4 linked regions of the Homo sapiens genome follow. The protein of the gene in region 2 interacts with the protein of the main gene of each other region in a pairwise test. Each region holds a gene or a part of one and is shown on either strand. Other genes may lie near its edges.

Evidence for each region.
Region 1: the proteins of NFKBIB (region 2) and TSPAN1 interact in a two-hybrid assay, tested with the Homo sapiens proteins (one large-scale study listed by BioGRID and IntAct).
Region 3: the proteins of NFKBIB (region 2) and GIT2 interact in a two-hybrid assay, tested with the Homo sapiens proteins (one large-scale study listed by BioGRID and IntAct).
Region 4: the proteins of NFKBIB (region 2) and ZBTB7A interact in a two-hybrid assay, tested with the Homo sapiens proteins (one study listed by BioGRID).

What each region holds. Positions count from the first base shown.
Region 1 is NC_000001.11:46,173,767-46,177,952, forward strand, and holds the start of TSPAN1 (tetraspanin-1), read left to right. Parts: upstream 1-1,320; 5' UTR 1,321-1,643; intron 1,644-1,719; exon of another isoform or gene 1,720-1,819; coding exon of another isoform or gene 1,820-1,863; intron 1,864-1,962; exon of another isoform or gene 1,963-2,081; intron 2,082-2,461; coding exon of another isoform or gene 2,462-2,705; exon of another isoform or gene 2,706-2,722; intron 2,723-3,892; exon of another isoform or gene 3,893-4,055; intron 4,056-4,186. Other genes in the region: P3R3URF-PIK3R3 (LOC110117498-PIK3R3 readthrough), read right to left, coding at 2,462-2,705; P3R3URF protein, read right to left, coding at 1,820-1,863, 2,462-2,705. UniProt on the Homo sapiens protein: Structural component of specialized membrane microdomains known as tetraspanin-enriched microdomains (TERMs), which act as platforms for receptor clustering and signaling.
Region 2 is NC_000019.10:38,906,156-38,909,432, reverse strand, and holds the end of NFKBIB (NF-kappa-B inhibitor beta), read right to left. Parts: intron 2,213-3,277; coding exon 2,124-2,212; intron 2,035-2,123; coding exon 1,774-2,034; coding exon of another isoform or gene 1,726-1,773; exon of another isoform or gene 703-1,725; coding exon 601-702; 3' UTR 544-600; downstream 1-543. UniProt on the Homo sapiens protein: Inhibits NF-kappa-B by complexing with and trapping it in the cytoplasm.
Region 3 is NC_000012.12:109,947,837-109,951,402, forward strand, and holds part of GIT2 (ARF GTPase-activating protein GIT2), read right to left. Parts: intron 3,481-3,566; coding exon 3,331-3,480; intron 1,011-3,330; coding exon of another isoform or gene 987-1,010; exon of another isoform or gene 1-986. UniProt on the Homo sapiens protein: GTPase-activating protein for ADP ribosylation factor family members, including ARF1.
Region 4 is NC_000019.10:4,049,847-4,053,412, reverse strand, and holds part of ZBTB7A (zinc finger and BTB domain-containing protein 7A), read left to right. Parts: intron 1-3,566. UniProt on the Homo sapiens protein: Transcription factor that represses the transcription of a wide range of genes involved in cell proliferation and differentiation.

The sequences.
Region 1 (4,186 bases), on a different chromosome or scaffold from region 2:
TTCCCACAGCTTAGCACCCCCATCATACACACACTCGAGCACAAACACACACTCTCACAGACACAGATACACACAGACACAAGTGTGGGCATGAGTGCATGCACACACACATACTACACACTCATATAGGGGAGGGAGGCTTCTGGGTCCCAGGGCCGCAGGGGCAGGGAAGTCTGGTGAGTGTGTCTGCATGCGTGTATGTCTGTGTGTGCCTGGGTTTGCATGAGTGTGAAGGCATGTGTCTGCATCTGGGTGCTTGTGTGCTTGTGTCTGGGTGCATGCATGTTTCTGTCTGTGTTCATTTAGAGGCATGCGTATGTGTTGTTACATATATCGTGTGGGGATCTATGCATTTGTGTCTGCGTATATCTGCTTATAGTATGTGCTTGCATGCATGTGTGTGGTTGTTGCAGTATGTGTCTATGAGTTCACTTATATTTACATGTCTGCATGTGTTTGTGAACTGTGTCATGTATCTTTATATGTATGGCCCCTCTTGGGCCCTTGAGCATGGCCCAAGCACCTTCTAGCTTTGACTGATGTTCAGCAACCCCCATCCCATAACCTGAGGAGCCCAGCACCGTCTGGGCATGGTGTGTCAGTGAATTCTCTGCCTCAACCCCCCTCAGGGTCCCAGTCTCTGGCAAGAGTTGGGGTAGATAGACATAAGCACAATTCACTTTCCCTTCACAGGCAGCAAAGGACATTAGCCACACTTCCTGAACCCCAGGGGGCCAGGCCACCAAAGGTCTCAGGGTTCACTCCCTTCCCTAGCCCCTTGGGAAGGTAGCCTGGAAATGCAGCCAGATCTCGGACCGGTGCAACACGTATTAGCCCATGCATGATGCAACATATTCGAGACAGAGTCCTACAAAATGTTCCCAGCGACTAAGACACAACCCCACAGAAACCCGGTTACAGCCAGTGACACATGAGCACACACTCAGAAATCCAAATGGAAAATCCCCAGGCCAGAGAGCTTAGCACCCTCCCTACTTTCTGGGCTCAAACTCAGTCTTGCCCCACCCCTAAGCACCCCAGCTCAGCTGCCAGTTCTGGAAAACACTGACCTCAGAGAATGGTTGAAGGGCCGAAGGTAGTATGCCTTTCTCAGAATCTCACCCTTCTCCATGTTCTCCTCCTTTAGGCTGTTCCCCATCCCCCTCCTGACCTTCACTTTTCTTACCAGGGCTGATGTCCTCTCCGGCACACCCATACCCTCACAAACGCTCCTTGACACTCACAGTCAGTCACAGAGGCACATTAAATCACAAAGGCACATTCAGCCACATCTACTGATACTCCTATTCTCCCGGCCTCAGACACACACACCAGCAGCTACACCTACACGCTGACCATCACAGGCACACAGAGGCACATCCACCTCACATCCACCTCATACTTGTGTACTCTCAGGGTTCAGTCTTTCATCCTATCCCTCTCTGATCTGTGCCTCCCAATACCTTCCAAGATGTTTACAGAGACCCTTCTCCCTGTGCAGTTAGGAGTGTAAGGCAAGAGAGCCCCTACTTCATGGGGCAGATCAAGAGCTGAGACCAAAGATGGTCTATGTTGCTGACCTTGTCCTGTCCTCCTGCTGTCTTAAACTATGATCCCTGCTGCGGTCACTGAAGCCTTTCCCTGTAAGTATTCAGCCATAACCCTCCCCTCACGCCCTGCATAGTCAGCTGGTTAACACCTCTGTGTGGAATAAGGCAGTTTGAGCAGAATGACTGTATTTGTTGTTCACCACCCACACGGCCCCTAGGAGATGCAGGTCCAGGGCAAACCAAGCTTCTGGGCTAGCTTCTGGGCACTTCTAGAGGATCAGAAAAATCCCAGGTTGCCTGAGATGTCTGAGAACTGAGGAGAGGAAGGAGAGGGAAGAGTTTGAGGAAGGAAGCAGTTCTGGAAGTTCCCTGCCTCTTGGATTCAGCCCCTCCCCAAACCCTCTGCTTCCAGCCAATCCATCCTCCATTAAGGCTGTCAGCACTTTGGGGTGCCTGCCATCAGGAGTCCCCCATATATGTAGGGGTGCTATTTCACAGAGATCATCCTTTGGCGTGCCTAAACAGAACCAGGTAGGGAAATCTTCACTGGCTCTGGTTTTTTTTTTTTTTTCTTGAGACAGAGTCTAGCTCTGTCACCCAGGCTGGAGTGCAGTGGCGCGATCTTGGCTCACTGCAACCTCTGCCTCCCGGGTTCAAGCAATTCTCCTGCCTCAGCCTCCCAAGTAGCTGGGACTAAAGGCGTGTGCCACCACGCCCGGCTAATTTTTTTTTGTATTTTTAGTAGAGATGGGATTTCACCGTGTTAGCCAGGATGGTCTCGATCTCCTGACCTTGTGATCTGCCCGCCTTGGCCTCCCAAAGTGCCGGGATTACAGGCATGAGCCACCGCACCCAGCCTAGTGGCTCTGTTTTTTAAAACCCCACCCTGGCTCACAGGCCCCCTGGCTAACCTTGAGGTGGGAAGATCCACACTATGGTGGTGTCAGTGTGGGTGTTGTTGATACCCATGGCCCTGGTGGCAGGATTGATGGCTGCACTGCTGGCAGTTCGACCTCGGAGACCCTGTTGATATCTTCTGCGGCTACACTTGAACATCCTGGGAAATCGGGGCCTGGGCCAGCCCATACCTGGCCTGCGGTAGGGGGAACGCATGCCCTGGGGCCGAGGGCCACGGACAAGCCGAGATGGCCCCATGGGCACAGGGAGCTTCTGCAGTGTGCCTGGGGGGTGCTGTTGGCCAGGGTAGCTGAGGCCTCTATGACATACAAAGTCTGCATAAGGGCAGGGCCCTTTATTACAAGTCGTGGGCCCTGGCCCCTCCTCATGGGTCAGGCTCCTTCACAATCTTCTTTATTGGGTCTGGCCTAAAAGCCAGCCCAAGAGCCAGACAGCCTCAGTTTGGCCCCTTGGGAAAAGAGGCCCTAGAGGCGGAACTCACTTCCTCACTTTCTCACTTATCCATATAGTAACAATATTAACAATGTTTTTTGAGCACTTACTACGTGCCAGACACTGTGCTGAGCACTTTACCAACGTTATCTCATTTAATCTCAGCTACTTTACAAGGATATGCCATCATTATACCTATTTATATACAGTCAATTCTCATTATTCCCAGTAATGTTCTATAAAGTCGCCACAAACACTAAATACTGAACAAAGGGTAAATGCAAGGTTAGGTTCCTGAAACCCTCTGGTCACAATATTTTTGTCAACTGATCTATACATATAACCTGATTTTATGTGTGGAGACACCTTATTTAATATATATTGTTGGCCAGGCATGGTGGCTCAAGCCTGTAATCCCAGCACTTTGGGAGGCCGAGGTGGGCAGATCACCTGAGGTCAGGAGTTCAAGACTAGCCTGGTTAACATGGCAAAACCCCATCTCTACTAAAAATACAAAAATTAGCTGGGTGTGGTGGTGGGTGCCTGTAGTCCCAGCTACTCAGGAGGCTGAGACAGGAGAATAGCTTGAACCCAGGAGGTGGAGATTGCAGTGAGCCCAGATTGCACCATTGCACTCCAGCCTGGGCAACAAGAGTGAAACTCTGTCTCAAAAAAAAAAAAAATATATCTATCTATCTATCTATCTATCTATCTAACTATCTATCTATATTTGAGTCATTGACATTGAACTCACAGCCAACAGCATTATAACTTGTGCCTGAATGAAACTTATCTAAAGCACATATTTCCCCTATAAGGCACATCACAGCCTTCTTGCACTTAGAAAGACTAGAGAGCACTTCAGCACTACAACTGGGGACCATTTTAGACAGTAAAATCACCAGCAAAAAACACCAAAAAATGTGAGAATATGCGTCACTAAATAGACCACCAAAAAGCACATTTGTTTACTCTATGAAAACTGAAATAAGAAGACAGAGAGTCCTCTTGCTCAACAGACCTCAGCTGGAAATACGTGTGTTGGACGGCTGAAATTTTTTGCCTTTCTGCTCATGTCCATGAATGACTGCAAAAGTACCACAAGTACTGGTTTGGGAATTACAAATAAATTTCAGTAAGCAGGCAAATTCACAGGTATGGAATCTGTGAATAAGGAGGATCCACTGTATAAGGAAACTGGGGCTCAGTGAGGTGAAGTCACACAATTAGAGGCAGGCAGGAAGCAAATCCATGATGATCAAGATCCAAAACCCAGAGCACTTAAC
Region 2 (3,277 bases):
CCGCTGCTGGATGCCACTATGAGAACCGACATGGCCCACAATCACAGTGACCGAGGTGGCCTGCCTTTGAAGGTGGGTGCTGACTACCCCGTTTCTGACCCCACCAGGAAAAGGAGGTGGAGCAGCTGGAGCACTTGAGAGACGAACTGAAGAAGGTGACAGAGACGCTGGGGGAGCAGCTCAGGAGGGAGGGCTGACCCCTACCTCAGTCCCTCCTTCCTCCTGACACACCCTGTGGCTTAGGACTGTTGACCCCGAAGCCTCCACCTCACCTAGCACCCCACGCCACCCCTACCCAAACAGGGGAGGAGGCGGACGTGCCTTGGAACCACACCCAAGGAGGTGAGTCTGAGCTGGGCCGGGGGCTGGGCTCAGCCCTGACACAGGAAGCACCCCCACACCTATGCACTCCCACTCCAACCCTTCTGAGTGAATAAAGCACAAAGAAACGCACCCTGCCTCCGTGAGCAGCACTTGATGTGACAGGGATGGGCCCCAGAAGGACCCGGAGGACTGGGAAGACAAGATCAGTCTGGTCTCTGGTTGTCAGAACTAGGGTTTTGTTTATTAAACTGGAAATTATATTAACAATGAAACAAATCACACGGGGCGGGGGTCGTCAGGAAGAGGTTTTGAGGCTGGGGTGGGAGGCAGCCGGGTTTGGCTGCGGCTGCTGTGAACCACAATGTCGTCGTATTCATCCTGGGGGCAAAGGGGACCAGGCAGAGGGGCTCAGGCGGCTGTCACTTTGCCCACCACCCATGTCCTCATAGAGCACCCTAAGAATTAGGTCTCGCCTCAAAGCCCAAGTTCCCCTGCTCCTGGCTCAACCTCCCAGTTTCCTAGCTCTCAGAACTCCATTTTCTTTTCTTTCTTTTTTTTTTTTTTTTTTTTAAGATGGAGTCTCGCTCTGTTGCCCAGGCTGGAATGCAGTGGCGTGATCTAGGTTCACTGCAACCTCCACCTCCCAGGTTCAAGCAATTCTCCTACCTCAGCCTCCCAAGTAGCTGGGATTATAGGCATGCGCCACCACGCCCAGCTAATTTTTGTATTTTTAGTAGAGACAGGGTCTTGCCATGTTGGCCAGGCTGGTCTCGAACTCCTGACCTCGTGATCTGCCTGCCTCGGCCTCCCAAAGTGCTGGGATTACAGGCGTGAGCCACCGCACCTGGCCAGAACTCCATTTTCAAGGTCATTTCTACAGACCAATTTCTAGCCAGCCGCCACTCCAGAGTTTCGGCAACTGAGCTGGCCCTCCTCCACCCCTTCCCTCTGCCTTTACCCAAATTCCTCCGCACCCATCATCCAGCACCGCGCCTTGCCCAAGGACGGATCTGTATTGCTGGGTTCTCTGACTATATCTCTCCCCACCGCTGGCTCGGGTCCTGCCCCAGCACTGCCGGTGTTCAAATCACTGCCACCCAAGGTTTTCTTTTCGCAGTGTGAGTTCTCCAATTCTTGCTGCCTAAAATCACCCCCAGCGCTACCACCCACCCCCGCTGTGTTCACCAATCACTGCGACCAACGCCTTTTCTCCACCCCTGCCTGAGTTCTACCTTTGCCACTGCCTTAGTTTTTCAGCCACTTCTGCCCAAGCTCTTCCCACCACCCCTGTCCAGGTCTCTCCTGACTAGTGCCCCGTGTCACTGGCGCTGCTGCCTGAGTTCTCTAACAGCAGCCCAAGGTCGGTGCCTAATTATCTTCTTGGGCTTCTTGCCTGCCGGTCTATCCTGACCCCCCAGCTGGGCTGCCCTGTCTCTCCTCCTGACTCACGCCCTCGTCTCCGCTGTCGCTGTCGCTACTGCTGCTGCAGGGGCCGGATTTCTCGTCCTCGCCCTCGGGCTCAGGGGCTCCGTGTGCACGGAGGAGGCGGGCGAGGATGGGGTTGGGCCGGAGCATGGCACTGCCGAGTGGGGTGCGGCCACCGTACATGCGGGCAGCAGGGTTCGCGCCTGCCCTCAGGAGAAGCTCCAGCACATCGGCTGCCTGGGCCTCCACTGCCAAATGAAGGGGGCTCCGGCCGCACGTGGGCTCCTGTGGGGGTGCAACAGAAAGGTCAGAGGGCCCGAAGAGGGGACAAGCCCCCTCCCGCCGACGGCATCTTCCCCGAGGTTGGGGCTCACCGGTTTGTCAAGGTCAGCTCCAGCATCTCGGAGCAGCCGGACCATCTCCACATCTTTGTGGATAACGGCCACGTGGAGTGGGGTGTGGCCTGGGGACAGAGTGATTGGCGTCAGATGATGAGGTGAGGGCCCCCCCCACCCCACCGTGCTTTGATCCTGGGGGAGGGTCATGTGGCGTGAGGGTGATTAGGTTTGGGGGCTGGTTCCTGAATTCTTGGGTATGGCAAAGAGGTACCTGGGTACCAAATGCCTATCTCAGATGGCCTGAGCTTGCTGGCAAGTGCTAGTGCCTGAGTTGTTTGAAGCCTGGGGCCCGCGGGTAAACAGCCTGGGGTCTGTGGACAGGGAGCCTGGATTTTGGGGCCAGGAGGAGACCCAAGTCTCTGCTCTTATCACTCAAAGGACCTGAGCTGGCACGCTATTTCACACCTGTAATCCCAGCACTTTGGGAGGCCAAAGCAAGAGGATCACTTGAGCTCAGGAGTTCAAGAAGCTGCCTGGGCAACATGGCAAGACGTCTCTACTAAAAATAAAAAATAAAGGCCAGGCACAGTGGCTCACGCCTGTAATCCCAGCACTTTGGGAGGCTGAGGCGGGTGGATCACGAGGTCAGGAGATCGAGACCATCCTGGCTAACATGGTGAAACCCCATCTCTACTAAAAATACAAAAAATTAGCTGGGCATGGTGGCGGGCGCCTGTAGTCCCAGCTACTCGGGAGGCTGAGGCAGGAGAATGGTGTGAACCCAGGAGGCGGAGCTTGCAGTGAGCTGAGATGGCGCCACTGCACTCCAGCCTGGGCAACAGAGTGAGACTCCATGTCAAAAAAAAAAAAAAAAAAAAACCTTAAATTAAGGTTCCTGCCCAGGCACGGTGGCTCACACCTGTAATCCCAGCACTTTGGGAGGCCATGGCGGGCAGATCACCTAAGGCCAGGCCAGGAGTTCAAGACCAGCCTGGTCAACATGGTAAAACCCCGTCTCTACTAAAAATACAAAAATAAGCTGGGCATGGTAGCATGTGCCTGTAATCCCTGTAATCCCAGCTACTCGGGAGGCTGAGGCAGGAGAATCACCTGAACCTGGGAGGTGGAGGTTGCAGTGAGCCAAGATCACGCCACTGAACTCCAACCTGGCAACAGAGTGAGACTGTCTC
Region 3 (3,566 bases), on a different chromosome or scaffold from region 2:
ATTACTAAGGCTGTTTCAAGCAAGAGTTCGAGATCATTAAAACATCATTTAGGTAACTTGCTTTTCAAATGAGCCCTGAGCAATTTGTAAAGGCCAAAAATGACAGCAGACACCATGGAAGCAGCACAAAGATGACTAGGGTTGCTTTGCAAAGCAAGAAAGACAGAAGTTCAGCTTGTGAAAAATCAGATCGCCTATTGCTTTCCAAAAAGCCAACAAGAAAAATTATGATCAACAAGTTTTTATTACATAATACTCTTGATATTCCAAACAATTCAGCACTTTGTAAAAAAAAAAAGAAAAAAGAGAAAACCGGATCATGGTAAGTTTGCTATATTAACATATCACGAAGAAAACTGGAAACCTATTGATCTATGGAATTGACATCTTCGCATGGATGCTCCACGCAGCACGCTTGCTTCCGTCTGGTGAGTGATCATCTTTCGGCCAGGGCTGGAATATTTGGCCTTTCTCTCCTTTGGCTTTGTCACCCAAAAAACACGACCTCAGTGGTGTCAGCTTTGAACATGCTAATCTGCCTGGCACCACCCCATTTTAGAGACTGTCACTTGGAGGCCCTGAATGCTCCTTCCATTCCTCACATGCAGGCTGCTCCATGGTGCTGGATGGATTAGAGTTAAGGGGTCAGCAGGGAATCGTGTTACTCTTTGGCATCTGGCATTTTAAACACCATTCACCACGTCCATTCTGCGCAGGGTCCTTCCCTTCTGGTGCGCCTTCATCTTCCATGGACATTCTATAAGCTGGGTGTGGTGTGAGTTCAGCTGTCTACTCTTTGACAGAGATTGTAAAATCTGACCAAATTCCCCACCAGTGCCAAGGTTTAAGTCCACAAGCAACTGTTTGCACCAGAAGATCATTACTTTTTCAGTAGCAAACCCATTCAATGTTAGGAGTTACTTTCAATTTTTATTTAGAAAGCACCAATCTGTGAAAAATACACCAATAGTAGTTGCTCCTCTTCATTAATTAGCATCTTTTCCAAGCAACTGTTAAATGTGAAAGATCAGATACAAATCATGCTACTTTGTCAACTTTATGTATATTAAAAACTTTACCCAACTTTGAAATATAATCAATACATCTTTGCTAAATAAACAAATTCCATATACTTTATATTAATCATGCCAAACTGCTGTGAAAGTGTGACTTACTGCCTCTTCCACAAAAAGACCACTCATTCTGTTTCTCTGAAGAGCAAGCCATTACAGAATGATAGAATGCTTTTATATCACAAAGGCTGGCAGGGTATAGCTCATATCTGCAATTCCCTTTCCAGGGAAAGAACAGCTGCAAAGCAGCTGACAAAGCAGCCCTGAACATTTCTACATTCCAGGATACAGACAGGCATGAAGTGCCTGTTGAAACTATTCATTAGAGAACCCAGGGCCTAGAGTGAAATGGTCAAGGTTCAAGGACTGAGGTGTGTAACTGACACAGGTCCCTCAATGGGGCACTGGTGCATGTGATCACGTGTTTGTCTGTATAAAAAGCCTCTGTGGCAGTTATTTAGTTAAGGCCTTGAAATCTGAAACTTTATCCTAACACTTTTCATGCCTGGATTTTGTCTGAATGTGTTCTCATGAGCACAAGTTCTTGGTTTCAATTTTTAAAAATGTTAGTACTCTGTATTTAGAGAGATGTCTTCACATAAATTTTAATGACGTTTATCTTAATAAGAACCAGGCTACACTTTTTTATTTGGAAGGAGTATAAGGGAAAATAAAAAGTTATAGACAATTCAATAGTTTCAGAAATCAAAAGCACTTCTAAGAATTGATGAGATAATCAATAAGCAAAAGCAAATAATTTCACTTTGCATTTCTCAAAGAAGCTCAAGACATTTGCTTTCAGAGATAATGAGGCTCTCTCTGGTGATTTCCAAAAATACTAAAAGAAGCATTGTTAGATTTTAAAAGGTGATGTGCAGCAGATTGATTTACAGTGGCAAAATCAGCATGTTTCAGAAATAGTCACCTGGTCAAAATTATTAGTCCAATTAATGGAACAAACTATAATCCACTAAATAAAATATATTCCAAAGAAGGCAAAGAAAATACAGGTCCTGTATGTTATGACAAAGGGGCTCTCGGTCTGTCTCGTTTACAGCTGCACGGCAGCCCTAGACAGGGCTGGGAGACACAGAACAAGTGTCTGTTCGTTTAAGGCTAGCTGATCTTAAGCATTCTTCATTCCCTGCTACTATAGGCATTAGAGCCATTTATTTCAAAAAGTCTCAAAAATGCTCTAGAAGTCAACATCAAAAGAATCCTAGACCAAACCCCAGGCAAAAGTGCACAGCAATTTCCTTCCCTAGTAAACAGAGGGGCATGGGCCCCTTTTTAGTTCTTCCACCTTCCTTTAGGAAGCAGCACTGAAAAGAGTCCAGGCACACATGGAGTGTGCCACGTCCTCAGGTCTTGAAAATGATTTGAAAACCTTACTTCTCAAATGACAGCCTAAAGACATAGATTATATATTTCATTTTGTTTCTGGTTAAGTAAAGTGTCCAAATCTCATTTTAGAGCTGAATGATGAGTGATACCCACAAAGTCATGGGCAAAATTTGCAATTTTTCGAATTCCCTTATTTAGCCATCTCATAAGGAGTTGCATACACAATCCCCCTCCTACTAAGGGTATTCCTTGCTACCATCAACCACACTCCTTTTAGGGATTAATATATTCACACGGTTCTGATTCTCTCAAAAGGTAATGAATGAGAAAATGCTGAGCAAATGAGATTGTTTTTTACCAGTGTGCAGCTCTTCCTAGTACAAATGAAATGTTTTTTCTTATTTTTTGAGCACCTACTCTGTGGCAGGCCCTCCTGTAGGCTCTGGGGATAATACAAGTTAGTAGTAAAAACTGGTGAGCAATAAGGTGGGGATGTGGGATAGGGCTGCCAGGGTGGGAGCAGGGTTTGAATGCTGATAAACATGCCCCTGCCCAGGGCTCTCATTGGCTCTGTCTCCATGGTGTGATCATCCTTCCCTAGCAATGGGAAGAATCACATCCATGGAGCCCCATCCAGGTTTCCAGGAAGCACAGAATAGTCCAAGGGTTATTCTAATGGGCACAAATGCTTAAATAGATGTTAGGTTTCTCCTACCTGGGGAACTTACTCTGGATATATTTCATTTTAAATATCCAAATACATCCTGCTTCAAAAAGACAACTTGGCCCAAAGATTTCTAAGGCTGTTACAATAACTGTTTTTCTTTCCTCGGACCACATCACAGTGCCTGAGATTCTTCCTTGTACTATGGGATTAAAGCGTCAACCGTCCTGGCATTTATTAACATGTTACCTTTTTCTGCATAATTCTCAGCTCGTCACTCAAGTTGTTATTCACCTTCATTAGCTGCTGTATCTTGGCCTCAGAAGCCACTAGAGCGTTTTTGACCTCCATAAATTCCTGTACAGTGACTGGTCCATCTGATAAATCTGAATCTAGGCTCTAAAAATAAATTGGGAAAACGTTCACAATCTGAGATGACGAGAACATTAAAGACTAACAGCTCAAGAATTTCAAATTCTGACCAA
Region 4 (3,566 bases), about 35 Mb from region 2:
GCATGCAAACATGCACCCACAGACACACATATATGCACACACACGCAAACAGACACACCCCACCTCTTGGGCCCAAAGCCAACGAACGCTTCCCTGACCCACGTGGCTGTTAAGAACAGCCTAGACCAGGCCCTGCCCTTGTGGGTGGACATCCCGGTGGGTGACAGCACAGGCCAGACATAAGATGACAGCCACATCATATGCAAAGCGTGCCGGACAGGGTTGAGCTGCGGGAGGTGGGCGGGAAGGCACAGTCGTTCTTCCTTCCTGGAGGGCTGGTTCTTCTCTTCTGCACTTTTGGATTTTTTTCTTTTTCTGCTTTGGGAGAGGGTGACAGGCCCTCAGGCTTAGGGAGGGACAGCCCAGGCCGTGGAGCGGCTTCTGAGTTTCCCGTGAGCCTGGGTCATTTGCTTCAATCAGCCAACATTTATGAAGCGTCTGCTGGTGCCAGGCCTGTTCTAGGCGCCGGGGACAGGCCTTGCCGGAACCTGAAGGAGGGGAGGAGCAGCTGTGGGAAAGGGCGTTCCAGGCAGAGGGAACAGCCAGTGCAGAGGCCCTGAGGCCAGCTCAGCTTGAGAGATCACTGTGCCCCCCTGGGAGCCACAGGACTTGGTCCCTAAACAGCAGGAGTTCAAGGCCAGGCCCGGGCAGTTTGCAATTCGGTCTCAGGAGTCCAGAGGTGGCTGGCTGGGCCTCGTAGATCCGGGGCGGGCTGTAGCGGTGGGGGCAGGGGGCTGGCAGGCAGGGACCTGGCCAGGCTGGGTGACTCAGCACCACCCCCTGCCCCCCGCCCGCCCTGGGGTTCCCCCAGCCACGCCCACCGAGGCTGAAGAAAGAGGCCATTGTCCCAGCTTCCCAACCCCACCCCGTGGGGACAGGAACTGGGACTGACCCCTCCCCAGCACCCCGGCCCCCTCCCCAGCAGGCCAGGAGAGGAAGGTGCGGCCTGGACTCCGGCGCCCAGGAGTGCCAGGCAGGGGGCAAAGGGCACTTTGGGAGGCAGGCAGTGTAGCTGGTGGTTTGTCCCTCCTTGGTGAGGTTGGGGTACTGGAGGTCTTGGGGGGCTCCTCTTCCTCCAGGCAGGGGTCACTGTGGGTTCGTCTCTGAGCTCAGGAAGAGCAGCTTGGTGGGGTGCAGAGAACTGGGGTCTGCAGAGGGGACCAGGCTGAGCGAAGGTGGTGACCCCCACCCTGCCTCCCTGGCCGCAGGCCACAGGCCCGGTTTCATTCTGACTCGGGCACTGCTGGCTATCCCACCCGACCCGGGGCTGATCCCCTCAGTCAGAGAAACTGAGGCTTAGAGAGGGACAATTGTGGAGACCTCTTCCTCCCACCCCAATTTAGACCCACCTGCTTCCTCTTTTCCCCCACCCCGTGCTCTGGTCCCCCCTCCCCAGGACACCAGCACCTCCACCCTCCAAAAGCCTGGGAGCCCGAGGCCCCTCTGAGTCACAGCAGGGCGTTGAGTAAGTGGGGCCTGTGGTGGCCGGGGCTATAATTACCCAGGCTGGGGCTCGGGGTGATGAAACTAGGGATACCTCCGCCCCCACCCCGCCTCTGCGTGGCCCTCTGGCCTGCTGTGCAGCTCCAGGCAAGTCCCTTCCTCTCTCTGGGCCTCCCAGGCTCATCTGGGGAGTCTCTGCACGGTTCTAGAAAAACCTAGTGGCTGCCATCCCCTCTGTGACCCCGGCCCTGTGCCAGATCTGGGCAAGGCAGCCCGGAGACCTTGCCGTGGGCTTTGCAGAAGGTGATCAGTAAACCAGAGGCCTGGAGGCTGGTAACAGACCTGGTTAGGCCAGGGTTCTGTTAGCAAGTTACCACGTTCTGTTGGCTTCAGTGGGGCAGCAAGGCTAGAGATAAGGTAGGGGTCTGGTTGCCAAGGGCCAGGCCTTGACCCTCAGGGCAACAGAGCCAAGGAGGGGTTAAAGTTAGGGACACCAGCTCTGTAGCTGGTGCCAGAGGGAGGGACTTAGGGCTGGAGGAACCCAGAGGGGAGCCAGGTCTTTGGGAATTAGGAAAGGTAGAGGGGCATTCAAGGTAGGGCTTTGAGGGATGAGTAGGAGTTTGCCAGTCCCCACACTAAAGAAGTCTTCAGTCTATTGAGTGTGAGAAGGAAGAAACCCGAGGTGGCTCAGATGTGGGGCACAACAGGCAGCAGCAAGGAGTAGGTCAGGTTCTAGCCAGGGCTCTTGAGACCCAGGGCTCCCTCCTGCCCTCCGGATCCCAGGAAGGAGTACACTTTATTACTATAGATTGGCATCACTCAATGGGAATAGGCAAGACACCTACTTTTTTTTTTTTTTTTTTTTTTTTTTTTGAGACGAGTCTTGCTCTGTCGCCCAGGCTGGAGTGCAGTGGCACGATCTCAGCTCACTGCAACCTCCACCTCCCAGGTTCAAGCGATTCTCCTGCCTCAGCTTCCCAAGTAGCTGGGATTATAGGCGCCCACCACCATGCCGGCTAATTTTTGTATTTTTAGTAGAGACGGGGTTTCACCACGTTGGCCAGGCTGGTCTCGAACTCCTGACCTCAGGTGATCTGCCCGCCTTAGCCTCCCAAAGCGCTGGGGTTACAGGTGTGAGCCACCATGCCCGGCCAGCAAGCCACTTACATATTTTTACATTTTCTGACAGCCCCGTTCAAAAAAAGTCAAAGAGAGTTGGTGAAAGTGACTTGAAACATTTTACCTAACCCAGTAGATGCATTTCCATGTGTAGTCAATGTGCACGATCCTCATTGAGCCATTTTACATCACCTTTTGCATATCAAGTCTTCAAAAGCTGGGGTACCTTTTGCACTTCCAGCGCACATCAGTTCAGAGTGGCCACATTCCAAGGGTTCAGGAGCCACCTAGGCCACAGGCACCCCACTGATATGGTGACCGGCTTTGTAGGCTAGAGGCTCCAGGCTAAGCTGGGTCCACGCTGCCCCCATGGGGCGAGACAGGCAGGGAGGGGCCCTCAAGTCACACCCAACCCCTGCCTTCTCGGGGCTCACAATCCAATCAGGGAGACAGAGGAGAAACAAGGAAATCAACAGAAACAAGAGAGACCGGCCGGGCGCGGTGGCTCACGCCTGTAATCCCAGCACTTTGGGAGGCCGAGGCAGGCGGATCACTTGAGGTCAGGAGTTCAAGACCAGCCCAGCCAACATGGTGAAAACCCTGTCTCCATTAAAAATACAAAAATCAGCCAGGTGTGGTGGCGCACGCCTGTAATCCCAGCGTTTGGGGAGGCCGAGGCGGGTGGATCACCTGAGGTCAGGAGTCCGAGACCAGCCCGGCCAACATGGTGAAACCCCGTCTCTACTAAAAATACAAAAATGAGCCAGGTGTGGTGGCAGAGGGCCTGTAATCCCAGCTACTTGGGAGGCTGAGGCAGAAGAATTGCTTGAACCCGGGAGACGGAAGTTGCAGTGAGCGGAGACCACACCACTGCGCTCAAGCCTGGAAGATAGAGCGAGACTCGGTCTCAGAAAAAAAAACAATAGAAGAGTCAGGTGGTGATGACAGGAGGATGGAGACAGGGCTGGGGAAGGAGGTGACATTTGAGCCCAAATTTGACTGTG